Linked DNA regions of Homo sapiens. The protein of the gene in region 2 purifies or fractionates together with the protein of the main gene of each other region. This does not show direct contact. Each region holds a gene or a part of one and is shown on either strand. Other genes may lie near its edges.

Region 1 (3,501 bases), on a different chromosome or scaffold from region 2:
CCACTACCAAGACTCCCCAAATCTTAAACTTCTCCTTTTAATCAGTAATACTAGAAATAGGTAATTAAAAACATAACTGAAACCCCTAAGACAAAATACTAAAATACTAAAGTAGCGCAATTCCCTGTGTAAAACTGCCCCTCCCTGGGCAGATTCTCAGATGCCCTGGACACAGTCCTTGCCAGCAACTCCCTCTGCCCCTGCTGGTCTGCCTGACTGCCCTTGGCATCCTCTCCAGCCACACTCACCAATCACTCTGCCCAGGGTATCTCCTATCACAGTCCCACAGAGCCCCCACAGTGACAGTAAGGTGGGGGCCTGGCCCACGCATAAATGTGTTTATGTGAAGGGTCCAGGAGCCTCCTAGCCCTGACCACTCTAAAGCAGGAAGTCTTGCCTCAAGAACGCACCGGAAAGAGCTCTTACCATGGCATAATAGCCATCGCTGGCCAAGATGATCACATCGATCGGTGAGGTATGATTGGCCACACAGATGCCACCATTTCTTGGTCTGTTTTCCCTGGGTTTAAAATGTATGCAAAGCAACCAAAATTAGTGTGAAACAGTTCATGTAACACACCTCTCACCTCACATGCTTCATCTGCTCTAACTAAAAGCTCAGAAGTGTCTTCCCATTTGGCTAAGTATAGGTGGGTGGTGTTTCCTGCAGCGCCATCTCCCTTCCTATCAATACAAAGCGCTCTCACCTGTCATGGTAGGTGATGATGGCTGTCAGCGCTCGCACGCAGATCCGGTAACACATTAAGTGAACATGTTTACTCATGAACTCCTTAAACCTGCAATAACAGGACAAGGATTCTGGGTTTTATTTTACATACAGGAAGACAGAAAGAGTTACTGACTTCAACAGCTCAGCAGTCCTTTATAACAGCAAAGTGCTTGTATAGACATCAGCACCTACAGGAAAGTCCTGTGATGCATGAGCACCTTTATGTTCACACATGAGGAGAGAAAGAGGGGACAGGGAGACTCACTTACATCCACCCAAATCAGTGGGTGGAGAATTCACAGCCTAGAATCCGGCATCCGCAGACCACAGGCGGGCTGAACTCCGTTCCCCCAGTCAACATCCAGAGGCAGGTCCAAGGCCAGAGGCCAACCTCCTCACCCGCCCAGGCAGAAGAAAGGTTTCTAAACCCCAGAACTTCCCAAAGGGAGCAAAATATTCTTCACACAAACAGACAAAACCTCCCTACATTTCAAACCATTTTAAAAACTGTATTGTCTCATCACTTTATCCACACAGTCAAATGCTCAAAACTAAACAACAAGCTGTAAAATCTGTTAACATCTGAGTCTCGGACTCTACATGTCTGTGGCTCCTCCCTTTTGTCTTCAAAATGGGAAGAATGTGAGGGCTGAAGGACAAAAAGAACAGTCATAGATCAAAATTTAAAAAAAGTAAAGACTTTACTGCTGATGCCGTTGTTGCCATTGGGTTGTTATTATTATTTGAGATGGAGTCTCGCTCTGTTGCCTAGGCTGGAGTGCAGTGGTGTGATGTTGGCTCACTGCAACCTCTGCCCCCTGGATTCAAGGATTCTCCTGCCTCAGCTTCCCAAGTAGCTGGGATTACAGGCACCCGCCACCGTGCCTGGCTAACTTTTGTATTTTTAGTAGAGACAGGTTTCGCCATGCTGGCCAGGCTGGTCTCAAACTCCTGACCTCAGGTGATCCACCCACCTCAGCCTCCCAAAGTGCTGGGATTACAGGCATGAGCCACCGTGCCTGGCCACCACTGGGTTATTTAATCCATCTAAGATTCCATGGCTTTGGTTGTGTCCAAAGAAGTGTCCTTGCCTTCGATATCTGAGCACCATTCCCAGAACTAACTGTCCTTCAGGCATGGACTGCCACACTCTACTCACCTCCCATTTGGCAAGTATCCCACCACAGTTGTGCCCACCACCAGAAGGCTAATCCCTGTGAAAGCCAGTGCTATCCTGTAAGAAGAAGAAAAGTTAGAGCACAGCCAGCAAATCATTCTACCAAGTACAGAACTGAAGGTGTGAAAATCAAAGGGGGCATCACAAAAACCACCCCCAAGACCTGCTCACCTGGGACCTGGACCAGAGTTCACCTAGAAATGTAAGCAGGCCTATCAGAACCAGAGATCCTTTTGATTCCAGCTGACAGTGAGCCATGGGTCTGGCTCTCAGCTGCCTGCATCTCCTGAGGCCTCAGGCAGCTGGAAGGCTGGAAAACCCTAAGCTGGCCATTCTGCCACAGGGCTGCTCCCTGCTGCCCTCCCCTTCCCTTTGGCTGGAAACCCCGGTGGAAGCACAGCTTCCCTCTGAAGCAACAGGAGGTGGAGCTTGAAGGTATTAGCATCTGGCAAGGCACACTCAGAGCAGCACATGGTGCAGAGAAGCTGAAAGATCAATACTGCCCCTGTACCTGAGAGGCAAGCTTCAGGAAAGAATGAGCCATGTCCAGGAAGGAGTGGCAGAAAGCACACAATGTTCCCTGTCCCTGTGTTTGCTGTCATCTAGAGAAGCAAGCTGTCTTTAAGAAATCCAACTATTTCTGTCTGATATGCAGAGAATCCAAGGGCCTCTAAAGGAGAATCACCAGTGTATCCCTCCAAAGAGTCACGTGGCCTGGCTAACGACAGTCATTCCCTCCTCCTTTCTAAAACGGGAATACACAGCAGAGCAGGCAGGTGGGCTGTGCACCACGTGGGGTGGCAGCAGCGAGCCCCACTCCCGCAGGCCCTGCCTCACCTGAGCGGCAGCAGAAAGCAGTACCGAATCAGCACTCCTAACCCCCACAGGACCGTGAGCCGAAGGCTGATGTACTGGAAGTTATAATTGGTTCTGCTCAGCAGGTTCCAGGACTCCAGTTCTTCTGCTGAGAATCTCTTTGTCACCTCATCATCCATAATGGTCTCCATTCCTTTCCGGCAAAAGTAGAAAATGTCAGAGAGCTCGAACTCTGGAGTGTTGTCCAGAGCCTTACTACTACCACTTCGACGAATCTCTTTGATCTCTTCTTCTAGTGAAGTGGGATCCTTTGCAATGATTCCTGCAAAAGAATGTGTCCCTGTCAAGCAGCACGCTGGGGGAGAGCACGTGAGACATACTCAGAGCACACATCCTGCACTAATGCAGGGAAGAGCGTGTGTGGCACCAGAAGCACTGGGGAACACTGTTCAAATGGACCTCTCAGGACAAGGATCACACCCCCATCTTACCGTTGGTGTAGGGCTTGTAAAGCTGGTGGTTCTTCTCCTTGGCTCCTCGCTCCATTCTCAAGGTAGCCCACTGGGAGGGGAAGGAAGCAAGATACAAGAGCAAGAATGAGACCTGTTTTCAATCAGTGAACACCTCCATCTCTATTCTGTGAAAGCCTCAGTCCCAGTCACCTAAGACCGTAGCCAAGAAGCACATAGTCTAGAAGGAAACTCAAACCACCTCTCCCCAGAGCAGCCCCTTCCTTGACAACTGGGACCAAGAGTTAAGTCACCTATAGCAAAACACT
Region 2 (3,501 bases):
ATTATAATACAGCAAATATTATATAACCCTAAGGGGTATGACGGACTGCTTAACTCAAGGATTCACTGGAGCAAGTTCAGTCTTCAAGGAATGTTTTATAACTCTTGAATCTAAAATAATTTATTCCAACTCATTTTTCACTTAAGAATGAAACATAAAAGGAAGGCATTAACATTCATTGAAAACAACCCACATTTTCCAAGGATCATGCTAGATGCTTAACATTCATTTCTTCATTTAATAATTTTACCAATCTTATGAAGTAGGTATCATTATTCTCATTTTCCAATTAGGAAACTGAGGCTTAGAGAGTTAAAATGACTTCTCTGAAATCACTGGGCTTATTACACAACCAGGCTAAAGACTCTTTCCTTTTTGAGTTAAAGCCCCAGGGTCTCTTCACTGTGTCATGATGGTATATAACTTTTTAAAAAGGGTAGTAGCATCACTAAAAGAAATAACAATAATAAAAATAAGAACCACACACAAGGTAGAGAAATTTAAATGAGATGAGAAACTGTTGCTTTAACTATGAAAAATAATGCCAGTTCATGTTTTTCCATGCTTCACAGTTACCCTATGATGTACATCATCAACAATGGAACCAAATTAAGATTTTATATTTGCCTATGAAGCAAGTAGTTTCAAGGATATTCACTGCCTAGAGCCCAGCAGAGTTGACTTTTTTGCAAGAACCATTTGATGATTTGTATAAGAATATCTAAAATGTGATTCCTCTACCTTCCCAAACTCCCATGTCCCATAATTTTGCAAACAGGACAATGAAGTGACTTTGCATGAAAACATGCTTAGTATTTTGCTTCCTAAATTCTTGTACAGCACATTCCTCTCTAGGAAGACTCCACTGAAGGCCGCATTTGGCTTAAAGTCTTTTTTTCCTAGATGTTTTGGTGATGTCAGAAGCATTAATTTCTGTAAGAAAGGTAAGCTACACAGTCAGAATTCAACTCTGCAGCCAGGTGACTAGATGACCACACTCCAGGATTCATCCCCATTTCAGGATGAATCAAATTACATTAAAATCACATTCAGAGATGTGATTATGTTCAGTGCCTGGGGGGGAAAACCTCCCTAAGTTTCTGCAATCAGGCATATGATAAAGGCTGTAATTACAGAAAAAATTCCAGCAATAATTCAAAAGTGAAATTGGCAAGTGGTATTTCCTAAAGGAAATCACACATCCTTATGCACGTTCCACTTAAAAACGTGTGACTGTGCTCTGGCATTTTTTTGAGAAGTACAAAATAAGACATAGCTTTGTTTAGAAAAAAATCTCTACTTCCATTAGTTAACCAATGTCAAAAGAAACATTAATGACTAACTGGAATAAATTAAAGCTATTTGGTGCTAAATGGAAAACAATACAATGAACACATTTTGGGGGGAAATCAGAAACAGAAATAGTTATGAATATAACCTGCTTTCTTTTTCAATCAAGTAAATCTAGAATTCCCAAATTTTAGAACACACAATATTAAGTATAGCACAAAATTATGGATGCAAATAACAAGGGTTAAGGGATGACAACCTGAATTTCTGACCTTAAAATAATCATAAAAATGACATAAGTCACCTAATTGAGTAGGTAAAGATCATTCCAGGGCTACTTTAATGAATGGTTTATAATTGACTAAATACAGTCTATAAACCTATATTTGGAAAGCTATTTCTAAAACGCATGAAAGCATCTTCCACTCCACTAAACCATCTTCCACCCCACTAAAATCAGAATACAAAATCCTTCCGCAATCCTACATATACCATTGGATTGCTCTGCAGATTCATTTTTCATAAATGTTGCCAATATAACATTCAGCCAAGTCTCTAAGTTAATGAAGTTCCACTAGGGTGTAAGAAAACAAGAAAGTACTGAGTTCTCAAAGAGACTTTTCAGCATTGATGCACCCAAGAAATTTATAAGACATCGAATCATTTCCTTGCCTCTAAAAAATAAGCATTTCCTTGACAATCGTTCAGTACTTTAATTGGAATAAACACAAGACTATCAATGTACACCACCCAAACGGACTCGAGGAGAGCACTTGAGGGATCACCTTTTTGGCTGCTAAGTTAGAGTAGGGGAGAACTTCCAATGATGGTCCTATTTTATGCCCTGAAGGAGATGTACTCAGTTGTCACATCTGAATGCTTGTTTGCCGTATATTTTGCTAAATGATTTTTTGGTTTTACTATAGTTTCTAACAAACAAGCATACGAGAGAAATGTTAGAAAATATGTAGTACAAGTAGAAATATTGCTAGTGTTTTATCCTGCCCTTTGCTTCCATTTCATGGCTGCAATGAAAAGGACGGTCATCAAACTTGGCTATAAAAGAATTATGCAAATTTAACCATATTAATATCATTTTTCTTTTCTTTTTGAACAAAATCTTTCACCCCCTGCTCAAATATCTGTTTTTTGCATATATGAGAATTTTCCCAGATGCTGGCATGAAAAGTCTATGTAGGTATTTTGGCTTTCTGTTTAAAATCACATTCAGAGATGATATTCCACTGCTAGGATATAAATCAGAACTCCATTACAATACCACATACGATTGTATTGATGCCATTTGTCCACTATTTAAAAAAATAATTTAGGTGTTTGCAGGAATTACTTCTAAGCTCTTTACCAATCTGCTTTCCACTCACCTAAGTGGTAGGATGGCCACGATTGTTATTAAAACTCCCTCAAATTCTACTCTAAAAATAGTTGAAGTCATGTTTATTATGGTGTGCAAAGTGGGTCATTGTGATGCAGAGGCAGATGGCAGGGCTGGCCAATGATTCTCTTTACAATGGATGCTGATCAGTTCCTGGTCAAGTGACCTAAGACATGATTGTGTCAATCAAGAAAAACAGCCATGACAACAATAATGACAAGCCCTGCTGGGCTAGGCTGCTGACTGGAAGGTACAGCTACGGTGACACAAACTTTCTTCCTCAGACATCTCTAAAGAGATGGTTCTTTCTTGGTAATTGCCATGTGTTCATTTAAAAAGAAAAGGCCTTGCAACTTTCTAGGCACATACACACTTTCCTATGAAAATTAAATTGTTCACAAAATCATTATGCCCACTTTCAGAAAATAAGAGACAAATAACTGCTGAATTGGCTTTGGGAGGCTTATGTAACCTATATTTACAAGTGTTTTACTCTGAAGCAAGTAGCTGAGGAACTTAGTAAACATCTGCAAGAATACCCCAAAATTATTTTTTCCACTGCTATGTTAGTCTAGCTATCACAGAACTGCAGAATCAATCTGCTATCCACAAGAGCCCCAAACACCATCACATCAAAAGAACTGCAGATCTCAAAAACATAATAATTCAGAACCGTAGTCAAGAAAAGCATTAAATAAAAATCCACCACCACCAACCTTTGCTTGGGCTTCTGGTGCTGTCACCTTGACGACCTTATTGCGGTTTATCATTTGCTTCACCCATTTTTCTACTTGGACGTTGAATTTCATGAAAACCAC

The links.
Region 1: the proteins of SLC24A2 (region 2) and GPAT4 purify together in Homo sapiens (affinity purification with mass spectrometry; one large-scale study listed by BioGRID and IntAct). This does not show direct contact.

The regions. Positions count from the first base shown.
Region 1 is NC_000008.11:41,609,199-41,612,699, reverse strand, and holds part of GPAT4 (glycerol-3-phosphate acyltransferase 4 isoform 1 precursor), read right to left. Parts: intron 3,285-3,501; coding exon 3,215-3,284; intron 3,046-3,214; coding exon 2,745-3,045; intron 2,739-2,744; exon of another isoform or gene 2,079-2,738; intron 1,965-2,078; coding exon 1,890-1,964; intron 798-1,889; coding exon 708-797; intron 521-707; coding exon 427-520; intron 1-426. UniProt on the Homo sapiens protein: Converts glycerol-3-phosphate to 1-acyl-sn-glycerol-3-phosphate (lysophosphatidic acid or LPA) by incorporating an acyl moiety at the sn-1 position of the glycerol backbone. Active against both saturated and unsaturated long-chain fatty acyl-CoAs.
Region 2 is NC_000009.12:19,782,538-19,786,038, forward strand, and holds part of SLC24A2 (sodium/potassium/calcium exchanger 2), read right to left. Parts: coding exon 3,400-3,501; intron 1-3,399. UniProt on the Homo sapiens protein: Calcium, potassium:sodium antiporter that transports 1 Ca(2+) and 1 K(+) in exchange for 4 Na(+). Required for learming and memory by regulating neuronal Ca(2+), which is essential for the development of synaptic plasticity.